5 separate regions of the Homo sapiens genome follow, and regions 1, 2, 3 and 5 are each reported to be linked to region 4. The links are microRNA targets in miRTarBase. Many come from high-throughput screens and were not tested one by one. Region 4 holds a microRNA gene; each other region holds the end of a gene's coding sequence.

Region 1 (3,619 bases), not on the chromosome of region 4:
AGACTGGCCTCAGAGCAGGACAGGCAATCCTGGACAACCTTGGCCCCTTCTCGAAGCTGGCCAGCCCCTTGTTCCCTAATCTCAGTGTGTGTGCGGAGCTTCTCGAAGCTGGCCAGCCCCTTGTTCCCTAACCTCAGTGTGTGTGTGGAGCTATCGGCAAGCCTTGCAGTGAGAAATGAGTGTCCGCTGGACTTGTTCAACCCTCGGGCTGTCGCCGTGCCCGCTCTGCTCATGGGCGAGCCTCGGGTGGGGAGCCCCTGACAGACTGACCTCTCCCATCTTCTCTCCAACCTCAGGTGCCCCCGGCCCTCCAGGACCAAGAGGATTCAAAGGAGATATGGGCGTGAAAGGGCCTGTTGGCGGCAGAGGCCCGAAAGGAGACCCCGGCAGCTTGGGCCCCCTGGGACCCCAGGGTCCTCAGGGGCAACCTGGAGAGGCCGGGCCTGTGGGAGAAAGGGGCCCTGTTGGCCCTCGAGGGTTCCCAGGCCTCAAAGGCTCAAAGGGCAGCTTTGGAACTGGAGGGCCGAGAGGACAGCCAGGCCCAAAAGGGGACATAGGGCCCCCAGGGCCAGAAGGGCCCCCGGGGTCTCCAGGGCCCTCAGGGCCTCAGGGAAAACCGGGAATTGCAGGGAAGACAGGGTCACCAGGCCAGCGGGGGGCCATGGGGCCTAAGGGTGAACCAGGGATCCAGGGTCCCCCTGGTCTCCCGGGGCCTCCAGGTCCACCAGGAAGCCAGAGCTTCTACTGAGGAGGGCTGTGGCAGAGCCACTGTCACACAGAATGCCGGAGGGGCGCAGAGCAGATCCAGGCCCCAGAAAGCCTCACCTACAGACAGCTGTGGTCCTCTGATTCCAATGAGGGGGCTCCCCAGGGCTGACCCTGCAGCTTTGGGCTCCCCCATAGTGACTGTGCCATAGGAAAGCAGCCCCTCCTCACACATACATGTGCACATGCACACACATGCATGCACACACATGCACACATACACGCACATGCACACATACACATGCATGCACACATACACAGGCATACATGCATGCACACACACATGCACGCACACACACATGCACACATACACGTGCACACATACACAGGCACACATGCATGCACACATACACATGCACACACACATGCACACATATATGCACAGGCACACACATGTACGCACACACACATGCACTGCACACATATCCATGCACACAAACACATATATACACATGCACATACACAGATTTTTCTGCTGGCCAGGTGGGCCAACTGGGTTTCCCTGGCTGGGCAGGAGGAGAGGGCAGAGGAAGACCCCCTCTCCTGTGACTGAGCCTGCCAGGGAGGCAGCTACCTCGGGAGGAAGGTCTCACATCTGTCTCTGGGCACCCATGCTGGCCAGCAGTTTCCCAGGGCTCCCTGGGGTTGAAAAGCCCCAAGGAAACCTTTGCGGGTGGGGCGTTACTGCCAAAACTCCAGAGGCAAAGTGGACCTGGCAACCACAAGACCCTCCCCATAAGCAGGGGACCAGCATACCCGGGAGCTGTCCCTGTCTGTCACAGCACAGTGGGGCCACGAGGCTGACATTCTCTGGCCTTGCACACAGTGCCCCCTGAGAAGTTCAACATTTATTTCTTCACGTGTCCAGAAAATTCCTCAATTCATCCTTGCCTCTGCCCTTCAGGAGCAGCCTGGAAGGAATCCAAGCAGGAGTTTCATCTGCATGGGGGCACTCTGCAGGCCCTGGAACATTGGGCCTGAGTGGAGATGGGAGACAGAGGCAGGCCAGAAGGTTCTCTCTGCACAGCTGCCTCCCTTGCTCTCCCTGAGGCTGGCCTGCCCCATTCCCCAAGGGGGCTCCTCTGGAGTGGTGGGGAGGATTAGGCTGCAGAAGGGCCAACCCCTTGCAACAGGGCAGCTCTCGCCTCCCGCACACGGCTCTCCTGATCACAGCTGCATGCCGACCTTGTCCCACCGGGACCCACAATGGCCCGAGCCCTCTTTGCATGGGCAGCCAGCTGGACTAGGAGTGGGAAGGGCCTGGACACTCACAGAGGCCCCCTCTGTCATCACTCCTTGGCACCCACCAACTTCCTGCACACACTGGCAGAGAGGGGCGCTGGGAAATCACCCCACAGGGTGGAGGTCTCCTGTTGGCTACACTCTAAAGCTGCTTTGCCTTCATGTTCAAACAGATTCAGGCACCACCCCCTCCACCGCCCGCAAGGTTAGGGCATAGAGTTGTCTCCTTCCCAACACGGACCCAGAGAGCAGCCCTTCCCTGCTCAAAGCCTTTCCGCACCCTCCTGACTGTCCTGGATGTGCAACTGGTTTGCACTGCACACCCCACGGCCATGTAACTCTCCTGTCCACATATGATAATACCATTCTGCATAGTATTACTGACTCAGTAAAGAGCTATTTCCAGGAGTGAGGTGTCTTTGAGTCCTTTCTGCCTGACTTGGGGGCATGATGCCTTCAGGGCTGCACTCCAGGTGGGCCTCTGAAGGAGAACCAGTGACGAGGGTCCCCCAAAAATTCAATCTCACTGGAGTTGGGTCTAACCTCATTTTAGAAACACTGAGTTCGGCCAGGGACCAAGAGCGTCTGAGGGAATTACTCAGAGAGAGCAGGAACAGAGGGGGAAATGCTAAGCCCAATGCATCTTGCAGCCTGGCCCTGGAGCTCTTTGGCTAAAACAAGATTGGAAAACAGGGCAGGCCTGGACATGTGAGTGATACCTCCTGCTTCTGGCTTTTGTCTCCAAGACAAGGAGATAGAACAGGAAAGGAGGCAGAGACCAGGCCAGACCTGCCCCAAGGGGCCTGGCTTGGCAGGGTCTGCGGATTACGGAAGAGGACAGCCGGATCCTCTGTGAGTCGGCACAGCAGCCTCACTCACTGGCAAAATGTGACCTAGTGCAAGCCTGGAGCCCTGTTTTTTGGGTTTTTTTGGAGTTTTTTTGGTGGGTTGGTGCTTAGTTGAGGAAGTGAGCAAAAGGGCAGGGGGTGAGGATGGGGCCAAACATGGCTGCCTCACATGGACCTCACCGCTTCCTCTATAGTGAGTAGCATGAGGTCCCTCCTCCCCACTGACATCTGAGATGTCCACAGCACCTGACAATGTTCAACACACCATAAACATCAGCCATTGTCACGGTGGGACTTATTATATGGGTGAAGAGCCTCCTGGGCCACAGTGGGTGTGCTCTGTGCTCCTCTGCAGGTGAGTAGCCAGCACACCAGCCCCTGCATGTCTCATTTCACGCTCCCTGAACTGTGAGAGCTGGGAGGGACCTGGGGGAGTCTGAGGCTCAAGTCTCTTACTTCTCATGGGACAAACCAAGGACTGAGAGCAGTTGAGGGGTTTGCTGCACATCTGGGGCTGGAACTCCAGTCTGGTGTCTCTGGCTAGTGGTAGATCCAGTTCTCAGGCTACTTTCCTATTGGTGAGGGTCCTCAGGAAGCCTCCTACCACATATTTCTTGGGAAGTGTTCCCGCCCCAATCCTGTTCCCTGTCGTAAGTCATCAAACTGCTCTTAGTATTAATGTGGCCCTTTGGAGTATCTGGACAGCTCTAGGTACTACTGAAATCCAAACAGCGGAACCTGGGGTTTAAGGGGACAGACAGTTA
Region 2 (3,619 bases), not on the chromosome of region 4:
CAGGCCTCTCTACGCTAAGATGGGCAGGTAGAATCTGTGGGGAAAATGTGACTTTTAAGGGCTCTGTCTGTTTTTGCCAAGAGGATAAGCTCCTTCAGCCTCCACGGGTTCTCCTCAGTGTCTGATGTGGCACCCGGGGGTCCCAGCTGACCATGGGGCAGGGGTTCTGCCCTGTGCAGTGGCCGTGCCCCACACACCCTGACCGTGCAGGTGTCTGCAGAGCCCCAGGGCCTGAGAGTGGGCCAGGGGGCCCAGCGCTGGGTAATGGAGCTGCCCCTCTGGATGGGGTCCCCGGGTATAGCTGGAGAAATGAGCGACGGGCTCACAGCCTCTCCCGGGTGGCGGTCTTATTCTGCTGGCATCGTGGGGCCCGTGGCCCCATCCTGTGGGAGCATCAGGCTCCTGAGCAGAATAAGTAGCTGGCCCCGACCCCCCCACCCTGAAGGAGCCACCCGAGGAGGCAGAACTGCCATGAACTGCCATGGGGATGTGCCCTGGGCTTATAGGATGTGGTGAAGTACACAGGACAGGGTCCTCGGTCTGGCCTGTGCCATGGGGACCTTGGGCCTCAGTTTCCCCACCTTTGATGGAATACGGTGAAGTGCACAGGACAGGGTCCTCCCCAGACTGGCCTGTGCCATGGGGCCTCGGGCCTCAGTTTCCCCACCTTTGACTTAGAGGGAAGGTTGGATGGTGACTTCTTGTAACGATGGCCATGATTCTGTGGCTGCGGCGGGGGCGCACCTGGAGGTTCTCACCGTCACTCTGTCCCGCAGCACACCTTCGATGGCATCCTGCAGTGGGCCATCCAGAGCATGGCCCGTCCGGCGGCCCCCTTCCCCTCCTGACCCCAGATGGCCGGGACATGCAGCTCTGATGAGAGAGTGCTGAGAAGGACACCTCCTTCCTCAGTCCTGGAAGCCGGCCGGCTGGGATCAAGAAGGGGACAGCGCCACCTCTTGTCAGTGCTCGGCTGTAAACAGCTCTGTGTTTCTGGGGACACCAGCCATCATGTGCCTGGAAATTAAACCCTGCCCCACTTCTCTACTCTGGAAGTCCCCGGGAGCCTCTCCTTGCCTGGTGACCTACTAAAAATATAAAAATTAGCTGGGTGTGGTGGTGGGTGCCTGTAATCCCAGCTACATGGGAGCCTGAGGCATGAGAATCACTTGAACTCGGGAGGTGGAGGTTGCAGTGAGCTGAGATTGCGCCACTGCACTCCAGTCTGGTCGGCAAGAGTGAGACTCCGTCTCAAAAACAAAACAAAACAAAAAAACCACATAACATAAATTTATCATCTCGACCACTTTTCAGTTCAGTGGCATTCACATCTCATGTAACCATTGCCACCACCATCTGCAGAGCTGTTCCAGCTTCCTGAATGGAAACTCTGGCCCCATGAAACACTCACTCCCCATTCCCCTCCCAACCCCTGGCACCCTCCACTCTACTTTCTGTCTCTATGACTTCTCCAGGGACCTCATGGAAGTGGAATCACACAGTATCTGTCCTTTTGTGTCTGTCTTATTTTACTCAGCATGGTGGCCCCAAGGTTCATCCATGTTGTAGCATGTGCCGAAATCTGCTTCCTTTTTTAAGGCTGAGTAATATTCCAGCACATGGATGGACTGCATTGTGTTCATCTATGCTTTCCTCAGCAGACACCTGGGTGCTTCCACCTTTTGGCTGTTGTGAGTAATGCTGCTATGAATATGTGTGTGCAAATATCTGTGTGAGTCTTTGAGTAAAATCGCTGGATCACATGGTAATTATATTTTTAATTTTTTGAAGAACTGCCATCCTGTTTTCCACAGCAGCTACACCATTTCACATCCCCACCAACACTGCATGAGGGTTCCAGCCTCCCCATATCCTTGAAACAATTACTATTTTCTGCATTTTTCTTTCTTTTCTTTTCTTCTTTTTTTGAGACGGAGTTTCGCTCTTGCTGCCCAGGCTGCAGTGCAATGGCGCAGTCTCCACTCACTGCAACCTCTGCCTCCTGGCTTCAAGTGATTCTCCTGCCTCAGCCTCCTGCATAGCTGGGATTACAGGCGCACACCACCATGCCCGGCTAATTTTTGTATTTTTAGTAGAGACGGGGTTTCACCATGTTGGCTGGGCTGGTCTCGAACTCCTGACCTCAGACCTCAGGTGATCCACCCCCCCCCCCCCCCCCCACCCCACGGGCCTCCCAAAGTTCTGGGATTATGGGCGTGAGCCACTGCGCCCAGCCTGTGTTTTTCTTTTATAGTAGCCATCCTAATGGGTATGAGGTGGTACCTCATTGTGGCTAAACCATGTACGTTTAAGAATTTACACACACACACACACACACACACACACACACGTGATGAAGCTGTAAGAAAAGGGAGAGAATAATGACCCAAAATGTCAGCACAAGGATGCCTCAGGGGTAGACACAGGTGTCTTCTTAGCGCCTTTTAGCCCACGCATATGTGCTTGCGCAGTCTCTCGGTGTGTTTTCTAACATTTCACAATTAAATAAGGAGTAGTTGATATTCACAGCCACCATTTCCACCGTATATGTAGAGAAAAATGCTCAAATCCTAGCGATCAGCCCGCTGAGCTTTCACAAACCGAACACACCGTGCGGTCACGAGGCGGCTCTCCCGAACACCGGCTCTGCACCCCCAGGGCCCGGGGAACCAAGACTTCCCCAAGGGCCCAGCAAAAGTGAGGGAGGAGGGGAGGAAAGGAGGGAGAGGGAGGGAGGAGTGCTGGCTGCTTTCCGCCAGCGCCTCGTTTGGGTTTCGCTCTGCTGAGGCCTGAAGGCGCCCTGAGGGCCCCTGGGGGGCAGGGAGGGGCGGTGGCTGCGGCCGACAGCAAGGAACCTCCGGAGAAGCGAAGCCGGGCCAGACGTGCCACCGGGGCCTCGGCGCTGGCGAAGGGGCGCGTGCGGCCGCACTGGGGCCAGCCCCGCCCTGGTCCCCGGCCACATCCTCGAGACCACCGGGGTGGAGGGGGGGGTCTCACTGCTCAGGGCCCGCGTGACATTGCACAGGTTTAGAAACGCACAGCGGGAAGGTGGCCCCGGCGGGCCGAGGGCGCAGGATCCCTGCTCCGTCCAGGGTCCGTCCTGCGAGGAGGCGCCGGGGGCGGGCCCGGGGCGGGGCGGGCGGAAGGCGCGCGCGGGGCGGGGCGGGGACGGCGACGCGGCGCAGGCGGCGGGAGTGCGAGCTGGGCCCGTGTTTCGGCCGCCGCCATGGCCGCGGTGGACCTGGAGAAGCTGCGGGCGTCGGGCGCGGGCAAGGCCATCGGCGTCCTGACCAGCGGCGGCGACGCGCAAGGTGGGCGGGGGTCCCGGCCGCGTCGCGGCGCAGGGGGTGGAGGGCGCCTCCGCCCTGGCCTCTCCGGAGCGCCCGCCGAGCCCCGGGACCCGGGTCTCGGGCCGGCCCGGCCTCCCGCCCCGGCCTCCCGCCCCGGCCTCCTGCCCCGGGTCTGTCCCCCGCTCTTCCCCGGCGCGGTCTCCGGCCTACGTGCGGCCGGCCACGTTCTCGGCCTCCGCCTGGGTCTTGGCGCCGCCCGCGCCCTGCCCCGGGGGTGTGTCCGACTCTGGGCCGCGGGGCAGGACCTCCCGAGGAGTCCCCGAGGCCAC
Region 3 (3,619 bases), not on the chromosome of region 4:
AGCAGATGAATGGCTAAAGAAAATGTGGAAAATGGGGTATATATACACAATGGAATACTATTCAGCCTTTAAAAAAGACATTCTGTCATTTGTGACAACATGGATGAAACTGAAGAACATTATGCTAAGTGAAGTAAATCAGACACAGAAAGACAAATATGGCACATACTTACTTATATATGGAATCTAAAACAAACTCACAGAATCAGAGTGTAGAATGACGGTTACAAAGGCTCAGGGCTGAGAGGAATGGGGAGATGATGGTCAAAGGGTGTAAAATATGGCAGAAGGAATTTTTTAGTTCTACTGCACAGCATGGTAAATATAGTTAATAACAGCATTATACATTTCAAAACTAAATTTCCATGTTCTCATCACAAAAAATGTTAAGTGTTTGAGGTGATGGATGTTAACTAGCTTAATTATTCCATTATACTCATAAATCATAACACCATTTTGTACCCCCACGTACAATTATAAATTGTCAATTTACAGTTAAAAAAAATGCAGGAGGCATTTTGTGGAGGGAAAGACTAAACCCCAGAGTAGCAAAGCAACTAATTCATGGTCCCCCCGGGTTTAAGACAGAGCCATGAGCCTTGTCCAGGTGTGGGTCCCTACAGGATTCCCATCATGCTTTGAAGCTCGACTTGAGCCCAGGTGATAATGGCAGGCTCTGCAGGATCTGGAAGCCAGTACAGACTTTCCTCAGCACATTTGAGAGCAGGATGTAGGGCTCATAATTTATAATCATACTTGTGTGTATATGTGCTTCTGTGTATATATTAGCCCTTGGTAATGACATGTCAAGGGCTTTTTTTTTTCTTTGCCTAAACACAGTGTATGCTGCAGAAAACAAAGTGCTATAGTAATTCAGTGAACAGAAAATTCTACAGGCAAATAAGGTGGGAAACACTGCATATTATATCCAACATTCTTGGTGCACCAGGAAACACGTTTGCATATTAAGGACTGAACGGTCCCATAATAAAGAGACACCTTTAGGTTAGTTTAATCCAGTGATTCCCAGATTTATTTGGTTATGACCATCTATCCCCCCAGTAGTCCTCACCAATATTCTGTGGAACAAATCTGTTTATTTGCAGAACACAATTTTGAAAAGGGTTATTCTGAATGTCTATGAAGTGTTTTAAATATGGTACATTTTAATGAGGTTATATACCAAAATAGCCTAAACACCAACAATGACAGAAACATCCAGGATACAACTTGTGAAAGTAAAAATTTTTATTTTGATTGATTTCTCAATGTATAGTTCAGTATAATGCCAGTTTTTAATGGCAAAAATTTGGTTCCACTGAAACTCCATAATGCTACAGAGAGCTACTACTTTTTCCAGGAAGTAGGTTAACAGCTAGAAAGAAAAAGGACAATTTCCTAGCAGCATGGCAACTTAAACTGCAGATCTAATAGGTCTGCAACTTTTACACTAAAAATGGCACAAACAGCTGGTGACACAAGTGAGAAATGGGGAACAAGATGTGAACACTGAAAAGAACAATATATATACTGTAAATATGATGAATAAACCAAATGTAGCTATAAGAATCTTAAAGGATGATTATAGAAAAGGGAACCAAATATTTTCCTCAAATGCTTTTTAGAGCCTTTCTGTAGAGATACAAATATATATATATATATTTATCCAAAAATATGTTTTATACAGATAAATGTTTCTCAATTAAAGATGGGACCAAAGCTATAGGTATAACATAAAGCACATTGTCTTTTGTAAGACTATTTATCCACCTGAATTTTCAATTTCTTTAAAGTTAGTGCATTAAATGTTTTCCAAATATAATTACCTGTCAGTCTTTTTATAGATATAAATCAAGTAGGCATTATGTTTTAAAAGTGTTTGCAGGTTAAACTTTTCTAAGATGCTGTGCATATTAAACTTATTATGAGCCCCATTAAGAATCATTATTAATAAACATATCAAAAAGGGCTATATGTCAGATTTTCCTGTTCATAGTAAATATTTTCTGATTTCCAGTTTACAAGTATTGAAAATGCACAAGAAAGATTTTACTTCACAAGTACTTTTAAGAATATACTTTGATTTAATATGTATGTTAGTAAAACTCCACGTGTTGTAACGATTATTATGTTTTTGTTTTTAAAATGGGGATGTAATACTAATAACCACTACCTATAAAATAAAGCACACAATTGTTCCGGTGATTTTACAAATCTTTTTTTCCAGGTGTAAAGTCTACAAAAATTCCAAAAAATTAGAGAACACTGAAAACATATTAAAGTTTGACATCCAACTTTATAGTATTTCCATGTTACCCTGAAAGATAACTTAAAAAATATGGCCTTCTTAGAACAGGCCACTCTGCTATTATAAAAAATTGGTGACAGCAAGAAATTGTATCACTGATATGTGGAATTTTTGTAAATAGTTTTCTCTCCAAATCATTAGAAAAATGTTCAAAAATAAAAACAAAATAAAATATGGTGGTGGTCCCTAAACTATTTTGAAGGCAGGTAGCTTAGTCTAAGCTAAAATATTTTTTTCATTCATAGCAATAATCCTCCCCTCAAATGCCCTTTAAAAAAATGCATGAAACCGTACAATAGCAAAAATCAAAGAGCACAGACTGTATTTTCAAGAACAGAAAAATCTCTAATGCTGAAAGATATAGTAGAAAGCAGATTTCTTTGGGGACATTAATCAATTAGTTTATAATTCATTATGAAGATTTCTCTTTTTTATTCCGGGGAGAGTCTGCTACATTTGAAGTTAATGTTCCATTCACACCATTTTCTGCAAAAAGAAAAGAATCCATGTTACTCTCTTTTATAAATAAATGCAAGTTATAATCTTTATATGTAAAGATACCTTCAGAAAAGAAAATGTAAAATCCAATTCACTCAGGTGAAATTTACTTACCAGTATTTAACCAATCACAAAACCTGGTAACATTTTTAACACAATGAACTGAAAGTAGCAAATTAAAAGAAAACTACTATTAAAAGCAGAAAAAAGTGACAGCACAGAAAACTATAAAGTCACAAGAATTTAAAAATAGTATTCAAGAGAAATACCTTCTGTAGAAATAAAGAAACTTTTCACATTTGACAGCGAAGTCCTTGGGGATATTTGTTTACAATATAGTAAAGTTGGTGTTTAGGATAATTTCTATGTGGAGGCGTGTATTATGGCCTTCTTTTTATTTATTTATGTTACTGTTGTTTTTTGAGACAGGGTCTCACTCTGTCACCAAGGCTGTGTAGTGGCACGATCATGGCTCAATGCAGTCTTGAACTCCCGGGGACCAGTGATGCTCCCGGGGACCTCAGCCTCCCAAATAGCTGGGACTACAGGCATGTGCCACCACACCTGGCTAATAGTAATGGCCTTCTTCAAGCTATGATGGAGTAGCGTATGTGTGACTGACTCTCTCTCCAAAAATACAAAAGTTGCATACAGAAATGGATGTTTGAGGCGGGGGCAATGGCTTGCACCTATAATCACAGCACAAGTGGAATCCCAGCACAGATATCATTGAACTGAATAATAATGAAAAAGACATATTGAAACCTGTGAAATACAGACTAAGCATGGTGGCTCACGCCTGTAATCCCAGCA
Region 4 (3,619 bases):
TGTGCTCCTGCATAGAAGAGGAAATGATTTTCTGTGGGCATACAGGAAAAGTTTGACAAAGGATTTGAAATTTGAAGGATGAGTAGTAATTTGCCATGTGAAGAAAGGAAATTATGGCTAACAGACATAATGCATAAACAGAAGAAAAAAATGTAGTATTGGGTCAAGAGTCAGAAGTTTGGTGTAACTGCAAAATAAGGTAAAAGGGAGGATGGTAAAGGGACAGGTGAGAGATGCAGGTGGAAAGGACAAGTAGAAGCCAAATTTTGAAGTTTGTTTTATGACAGTGTGAAGGCATTTACACCTTATTCACTAAGATGGTGGGGAAATTAGTAAAGGCTGTTTCTAAGCATGTTCAGAATGTTAACACATAAGTTTTCAATCAGGTACTGTTTTATAAAAATACCTTTTTGATTTATTTGCCAGTAATGGCATGACCTCTGATTAATGCGTTACTTAGAACGCATTAATCTAAATAGCAAAATATCATGAGTCTGTTTAGCTTACTGATTTATTTGGGTTTATAACAATTATCATTGCTTTGATATTTTGACAGGTTCACAAATAGAGATTTGCAGTCATTTTTTCTTCTGAAAGTGAATTTAAAGTAAACTAGCAGATTTCAAACTATTCAGTAAACAAAATAGAATAAAAAAATTAATACTTTAAAACTTATAGCCTTATTAAAATGAACAATCTTTAAAATATTAACAGTTGATTTGACATGAAAGAAACTAAACATCTTAACTGAGTAGTAGTATGTTCTTTGGAATAAGTTCATATATAAGTAATCTTTTATCTTTGGACTTTATTTTTTTTCAAGAGTAGTTATTTCTTGATATATACATTTAAAAGTTTTTCTTAGAATGCCCATGATATTTTTAATAGCAGTTTTGAGAAATAATTCACATACCATAAAATTCACCTATTTAAGTTGTGCTGTTCTGCAGTTTTTAGCATATTCACAAAGTAGCAACCATCACTACTATGTAATTCCAGAACATTTTCTTCACCCCAAAATAGAAACTTCATATGTTTTAGCCTTCTTCCCATTCTACCCTCCCCGCACAACCACACGCAGCTCTAGGCAGCCATTAATCCTCTGTCTCTACAGGTTTGTCTATTTTGAACATTTTATATGTAGAGATCATATAATATGTGGTTGTTACTTGCATCTTTCTTTTAACATAATGTTTTCAAGGTTCATCCACATTATGGCATATGTCAGTACTTTATTATTTTTTGTTACCAAAAAATATTCCATATGTGAATGTATCACATTTTATTTATCCATTCATGAGTTGATGGACATTTGGGTTGTTTCTGCTTTTTGGCTGTTATGAATACTCCTGCTGTGAACATTTGTCAACAAGTTTTTGTGTAGGTTTATGTTTTCATTTCTCTTGAGTAGAATTGCTGGGTCAGAACTCTGTATTTAACTTTTGAGAAACTGCCAAACTGTTTTCCAAAGTAACTGCACCATTTTACAATCCAACGAGGATTCTAATTTCTCCACGTCTTTGGTAATAAGGTTTGGCAAAGATGTGGAAAAATTGGAATCCTCATTCGATTGGTTATAACCATCCTAGTGGATGTGAAATGTTATCTCGTTGTTTTGATTTTCATTTTCCTAATGGGATTGTGATGTTGAGCATCTTTTCATGTGTTTATTGGTCATTTGTTTATCTTCTTTGGATAAATATCTGTTCAAATCTTTTGCCCATTTTAAATTTGGTTATTTGTTGTTTTATTGTTGAGTTGTAAGAGTTTGTTACATATTCTGGATATTAACCCCTTATCAGATATATGATTTGCAAATATTTACTCTCATTCTGTGGGTTGTCTTTTTACTTCTTGATGATACGGTAACCTTTAGAGCACAAAAGTTCTTAATTTTGATGAAGTCCAAATTATCTTTTTTCTTTTGTTGCTTGTACCTTTGATGTCATATCTAAAAATTCATTTAGTCATGAAGATTTATTCCTGTATTCTAAGAGTTTTATAGTTTTAGCACTTACATTTTATGTCTATGATCCATTTTGAGTTAGTTGTGGTGTAGGGAAGGGGTCCAGCTTTGTTCTTCTGCGTGTGGATATGTCTAGTTGTTCCAGCACCATTTGCTGAAAAGAATATTATTTCCCCATTGAAATGTCATGGTAAATTGTTTAGTTTTATTAAGGAAAAATATGCATAACATAAAATTAACTGTTTTAAATTGTATAATTCAGTGGCATTTAGTACATGTACAGTGTTGTGCAGTCCCCACTTCTATTTAGCTCTATCTAATTTTGTGAAGTACTAGACATTTTCATCATCCCAAAAGAAAATCCTACACTCAGTCACTCCCCATTTTCCCCTCCCCTCAGCCTGGGTCTTTCATATAAATAGAATTATATATATTATATATTATAATATATATGGTATATATATGATATATATGGTATATATATGATATATACATGTGATATATACATATGATAATATATATGGTCTTTTTTGTTTGATTTATTTCACTTAAGCAAATTTTCAGGTTTCATTCACATTGTAGCGTGTATCCATACTTCATTTTTATGGCTAAATAATATCCCATTTTATAGATATACCATATTTTGTTTATCCATTCATCTGTTGATGAATATTTGGAGACTTTTGACCTGATATATCAGCATTCTGCTTTAGTTTAAAATTCACAAATAAAAGGAACACAAAGGAAAGGGCATTACTTTCCATTCTTTATTAAGAGGAAAAATATATGTGCAAAATTGTTCTACTTATCACGAAGAAGGCACTGCATAAATATTAGTGTCTTCTACCTATTACTTATTTAATGGGTGTCTTCATATCCACTGTCTCATTTAGACCTTATAAGAACATAAAAAACCACACATAGGACATTTAAAAAATCGTTAGCATTTTGCAGAAGAGTTATATAGCAAGTTACCTTCACTTATTCTTAGGAGAAAAGAACCACAAAGTTACATAGCAAGTAAATGATGGAGTTGATGTAACTGCAGTCTTTGCCTCCAAATCATGTTCTTTGCTGATAAGAAAATGTTCCTACACAAAAAACATCAGCTATTATGCCCTGAGTCGGTATACCTGATTCTCATGTTCATCTAAAATTATTCAATGAAAAATAATTATGCATACCTGTTCCTTCCCTATTACAATTGAAAATTAACCTAAATGTAGTTTAAACACCAGTTATAATACTGGTATTAATAGCAAGGGATAACCTCTGTAGCACAGAATTTTGTCTTACTGTGAAACAAAGCAAGATCTCTAACATAATAGAAGGATCATGCAGATTTTTTATTTTATTCATCATAATATACGCTAGCATACGTACCCAGGATAATTGTAGGTCTCAAAATATTTGTTGAATGAATGGAAGAAGTATATTGCTTGTTCTTTTCATGTGACCTGTGACCACATTTCATCATAAATTGTCACTGAACTCTCATCTTAACAGGTTTTGAATGAGCACACATAATGAAAATTCTTATAGTCTAACATTTATATGAATTAGTGTGCCTTTCATTTATATTACCTTATTAAATATGGCAGGTGTTATTTAATCTCTATTCTGCAGATATGTAAACTGAGACACAGAAAAGCT
Region 5 (3,619 bases), not on the chromosome of region 4:
ACGAATGCAGGCAGGAGGCCCCAAACACCCAGACACGGTGTCAGTTCTACAAAACTTTCCAAGTTGGCAGAAGGAGAAGCCACTGCCTCCTCCGGTTTGGAGGCCTCAGGGGAGGTGTTGTCTAGACCGCCCAATCCACTATCCATTCACAAGCCAGTCAGCAACTACCACTTGCCAGAGTCCCTGCCACCACCTCCCACTCTGTGGGGACAACAGCATCCACTTCTTCCACAACAACGAAACAACAAAGATAAAGCATGGCACCTGTCGTCATGCTTGCCACCTTTCAGCACCTCTCGGCTCAGCATTCTGAAAGCCGGGAACTCATCTTTAAAGGAGGCCAGGACTTGAATACAAGCAAGAAAATGGCATAAAATGAAGGAATTAGCCACTCGAGGTTGAAAACACACTTCCCTAAAATGACAGCAGCATTTGGAGCTGCAGGTGGGAGCACACAGCCTACCTCTAACTGGCCTGTCAGAACAGACACGTTTTCCCGTTCTCATTTTGTGTTTCCTTAAACCAACTACTAACTTCTGGCAGAGGTGGTGACTGCCTGGGAAAGATGCCATCCTCATCTGGCCCCCTTATCTATCAAGATGCAAACTAATAAAACCAGCGGGCGGGACACCCATTTAACCTGAAACCTCCTCTTTTGTTAAAAATGGACTGAATGTGTCTTCCGGTTAATAATAAACTTTGCTGGGCACTGGAATAACCACCAGCCTCCTCAACCGTGGCTGCTCTCAAAAGCAGATGTGGTGTTCCCTGTCCCGAGAAGGCTCCAGAGTATTTGGATTAAGGACCTGGATATGCAGATCCTACTCTTAAGAATTAACATTTCCTCCCTACCCCTCAAATGTAAAACTGGAAAAATTAAGAACTCTGTATTTTGCATTGCATTCTCTTAAAAATTCTGTTAAAAAAATCTCTTCACAGACTGGGTGTGGTGGCTCGTGCCTGTAATCCTAGTACTTTGGGAGGCCAAGGCGGGCGGATTGCCTGAGCTCAGGATTTTCTGGGCTGAGGCTAATATTGCATAACTTTATCACATACTTGTCAACTTCTGCAGATGTACACAATGTGCATTTCACTGCTTATAAATTTTACCTCAAAAGGAAAACAAACTAAACAGGTATTAAACTCTTATTGCATAAATAATAAGAGGCATTGGAGGATGAATGGAGAGAGACGGTGAGGAGCCAAGTCCAGAAAGGGGGTAGCGGTGCCCAGGTGCTGCACGCACCGCTGCGTCTGCACATTCATGTGATGAGGGGTGGGTGACGGTGCCATGTAGTTTATAGTCTTAAGGAAATTAACAGCTCCCTCTTCCAAAGCGAGGGAACGAGAATCCCACACCTTGAGAAACACAGGGCTTTCTACGGTGACTCCCCGAATGGCTCTGCAGCTTAAAAAGCTCCAACACATAAACTCATCAAGTAGGGTGAAGAATGAGGTGACACCAAGTTTGCTAAATAGTATTGTTTATTAAGGCTTGTATTCTCCTAGAGGAAAAACCCAATGTCGTCCAGGACTCCATTCAGGCAGTAACAGTTCAGAGGAAGTGACACGCTCTAAATACAAGTCTAATGATACAGCTGAAACGTTAACTCAGAGGGTCTTTTGGAGCAAGTAGTTTTCAGAAAGCGTCTGCTCTCTAGGACGGTAAGGATCCTCTACAAGGGCACGTGCAGATCCAGGCGCTGGAGCGTCAGGCATGGGCACCATTTTCATGCTTCAACTCAAACTCCAGGTGGTAGTGAGCTCAACGGTCCCTCATTCCACAAAACATGACAGCAAATTCATCTTCTAAAAAAAGTTTTGTTTTGTTTTTACCCATTCAACAGGAAAAAAAATTAGACACACACGATGAAATTTACAACCAGCAGCATCATCCATCACACTGTCTGTACTACCAGATCCTACACTTAAAGCTCAGCATTATTGGTATAAAAACTTAAGACGGCATTAGAATTCTTAAGAAAAGGTGTAAAATTTAAAAAGATGTGCAAACAACAAAGAATGCCCGACCCTGAACCAGACCTAAAGCACCTTCCAGTTCCTCCACACATCATGCCCCAACACCATCCAGCCCAATCGGACACCAGGACAGTGAGGGACGGGTGGCTGTTCAGTGGGCAACAGATCTGGAAGGAAAGATTTTCAAAAAAAAAAAAAAAGTGTCTGCCAAATTTGAAAAATTAAAAGTTATCTGTCTAGCAGAAAAATCAAATGGGTAAATTAGCACTTTAGACCGATAACAGATAATAAAATGACAAATCAGAATGAACAAAAAATCATTAACCTTTTGATTTCAGTATTTTCAAGAGATTTTATCAGAATACTCTAAATGACAAAATGACTCATGGTTTCTTATGTTTGCTAAAAAGCAATAAAGGGATGAGAAATATGAAGTCTCACAGAATATCAAATGACTGAATTTAAGAACACAATTTCTGCCAAAATAGATGCTTTGTTTTTAAGGATACTTACATTTCACATTAGATCAGTCTGATTGATAAGCTGACAAAAAAAATACTCCTTTATTAGTGACTTCTACAGGATTATAATACATAGAAAAAGTACAAATAAATGCAGATCCATCTGGGCAAAAATCAACGACAAGAAAGGCAAAGATGCAACACTCAACCCCCGCACGGGACGACACACTGGAGCTGACCAAGCACACGTGTTTTAAACTGTTTTCAAAGTCAAACGTTAGAACATGTAAGAAACTGGTTCGCCCTCATTGTTTGTTTCGACTCTGCCGTTCCTGTAAAAAGAAAAAACAAAAGTTGAACGCAGAGTAACCACACCAATGAATCCCTCCCAAAAGTGAGATCCGAGGCTGCCCCTTAGCAGCACCTGCAAATCTGGAGGCGGGACCCTGAATGGTACCCAAGCCACACCAGCACACAACTCTGAGCTGCACTGGGGCCTGCTCTGTGGGGGACTGGCCACACTGGGCATGGCATTCTCCCCACCCCCTCTACCAGGAGAAAAGCATCAACCACAACGGTCACATGGGCCACCTGTCTGCTGGGAAGCCTCACTTCCCACAGCTGTCTTTCCCTCATGTGCCACTATCATTCCACATGGAAAGACACTTAGCAATGTGAAATTCTCTGCACTCAGAGGGAGGAGCTGGCACGCACCAGGCTCTCAAGGAGGCCAGGGAGACAGAAGCTGTTCTTCTGTATTTTATCTCATTTAAACTTCTCAGTGGCACAAAGGACACCAAAATCCTTCCAACTGGCTAACAAGGTGCTGTGTCATGTGGCTAATGAAGGGCAGGAGGACCGGTGTGGGCCTGTCCAGTTCAGGCCCTTCCCACTCCCCAGCTCACTCCCACGCCAAGGGGAAGAGCATGCCCCTCCCCACTCCCCCACGGCTAGACTGGCTCAAGGCAAAGCTCCTCTGACCAGGTTTGCTGCCCACTCCCGTAAGAGAATCATCTTTTCCAGAGTGTATGTGACACACAAGCTTGAGACTTACACCCGAATCTTTTCCCACACTGGCCTCCCTGAGTAGCAGGGTCTAGAAGCCCCTTCAGTCTCCTTACAAGGCAGCATACAAAGATGAAAATGTGCGATCTAAGGAGCACACGCTGCACCACTCT

Evidence for each region. Region 4 holds the annotated microRNA hsa-miR-576-3p (AAGAUGUGGAAAAAUUGGAAUC, at 1,540-1,561, shown strand). A microRNA usually pairs through its seed, bases 2 to 8, with sites in the 3' UTR of a target mRNA and lowers its output. Matches are read on the target gene's strand: a 7mer-m8 pairs with bases 2 to 8, a 7mer-A1 pairs with bases 2 to 7 and ends in A, and an 8mer does both.
Region 1: miRTarBase lists SCARA3 as a target of hsa-miR-576-3p. Seed matches in the 3' UTR shown: 7mer-m8 at 1,356-1,362.
Region 2: the mRNA of AIRE is a reported target of hsa-miR-576-3p. Seed matches in the 3' UTR shown: 7mer-m8 at 1,327-1,333.
Region 3: the mRNA of TRAM1 is a reported target of hsa-miR-576-3p. Seed matches in the 3' UTR shown: 7mer-m8 at 1,499-1,505.
Region 5: the mRNA of YTHDF1 is a reported target of hsa-miR-576-3p. Seed matches in the 3' UTR shown: 7mer-m8 at 2,003-2,009.

The regions. Positions count from the first base shown.
Region 1 is chr8:27,670,604-27,674,222 of GRCh38, forward strand. It overlaps SCARA3 (scavenger receptor class A member 3), which reads left to right. Exons shown (of 6, transcript NM_016240.3): 6 at 297-2,415. The coding sequence ends at 748. Among named protein-coding and RNA genes, the nearest start is that of MIR3622A, 29 kb to the right of the region's middle.
Region 2 is chr21:44,296,880-44,300,498 of GRCh38, forward strand. It overlaps AIRE (autoimmune regulator), which reads left to right. Exons shown (of 14, transcript NM_000383.4): 14 at 777-1,769. The coding sequence ends at 848. PFKL (phosphofructokinase, liver type) reads left to right here and starts at 3,174. Exons shown (of 22, transcript NM_002626.6): 1 at 3,174-3,311. The coding sequence starts at 3,227. RefSeq lists enhancers at 700-759, 1,130-1,189, 1,520-1,629 and silencers at 2,727-3,396, 3,417-3,619.
Region 3 is chr8:70,572,212-70,575,830 of GRCh38, forward strand. It overlaps TRAM1 (translocation associated membrane protein 1), which reads right to left. Exons shown (of 11, transcript NM_014294.6): 11 at 1,007-2,794. The coding sequence ends at 2,721. Among named protein-coding and RNA genes, the nearest start is that of TRAM1, 34 kb to the right of the region's middle.
Region 4 is chr4:109,487,213-109,490,831 of GRCh38, forward strand. MIR576 (microRNA 576) reads left to right here and starts at 1,486; the gene lies at 1,486-1,583. All of the region lies in intron 4 of SEC24B (SEC24 homolog B, COPII component), which reads left to right.
Region 5 is chr20:63,193,962-63,197,580 of GRCh38, forward strand. It overlaps YTHDF1 (YTH N6-methyladenosine RNA binding protein F1), which reads right to left. Exons shown (of 5, transcript NM_017798.4): 5 at 1,468-2,773. The coding sequence ends at 2,747. Among named protein-coding and RNA genes, the nearest start is that of MIR124-3, 17 kb to the left of the region's middle. RefSeq lists an enhancer at 3,156-3,450.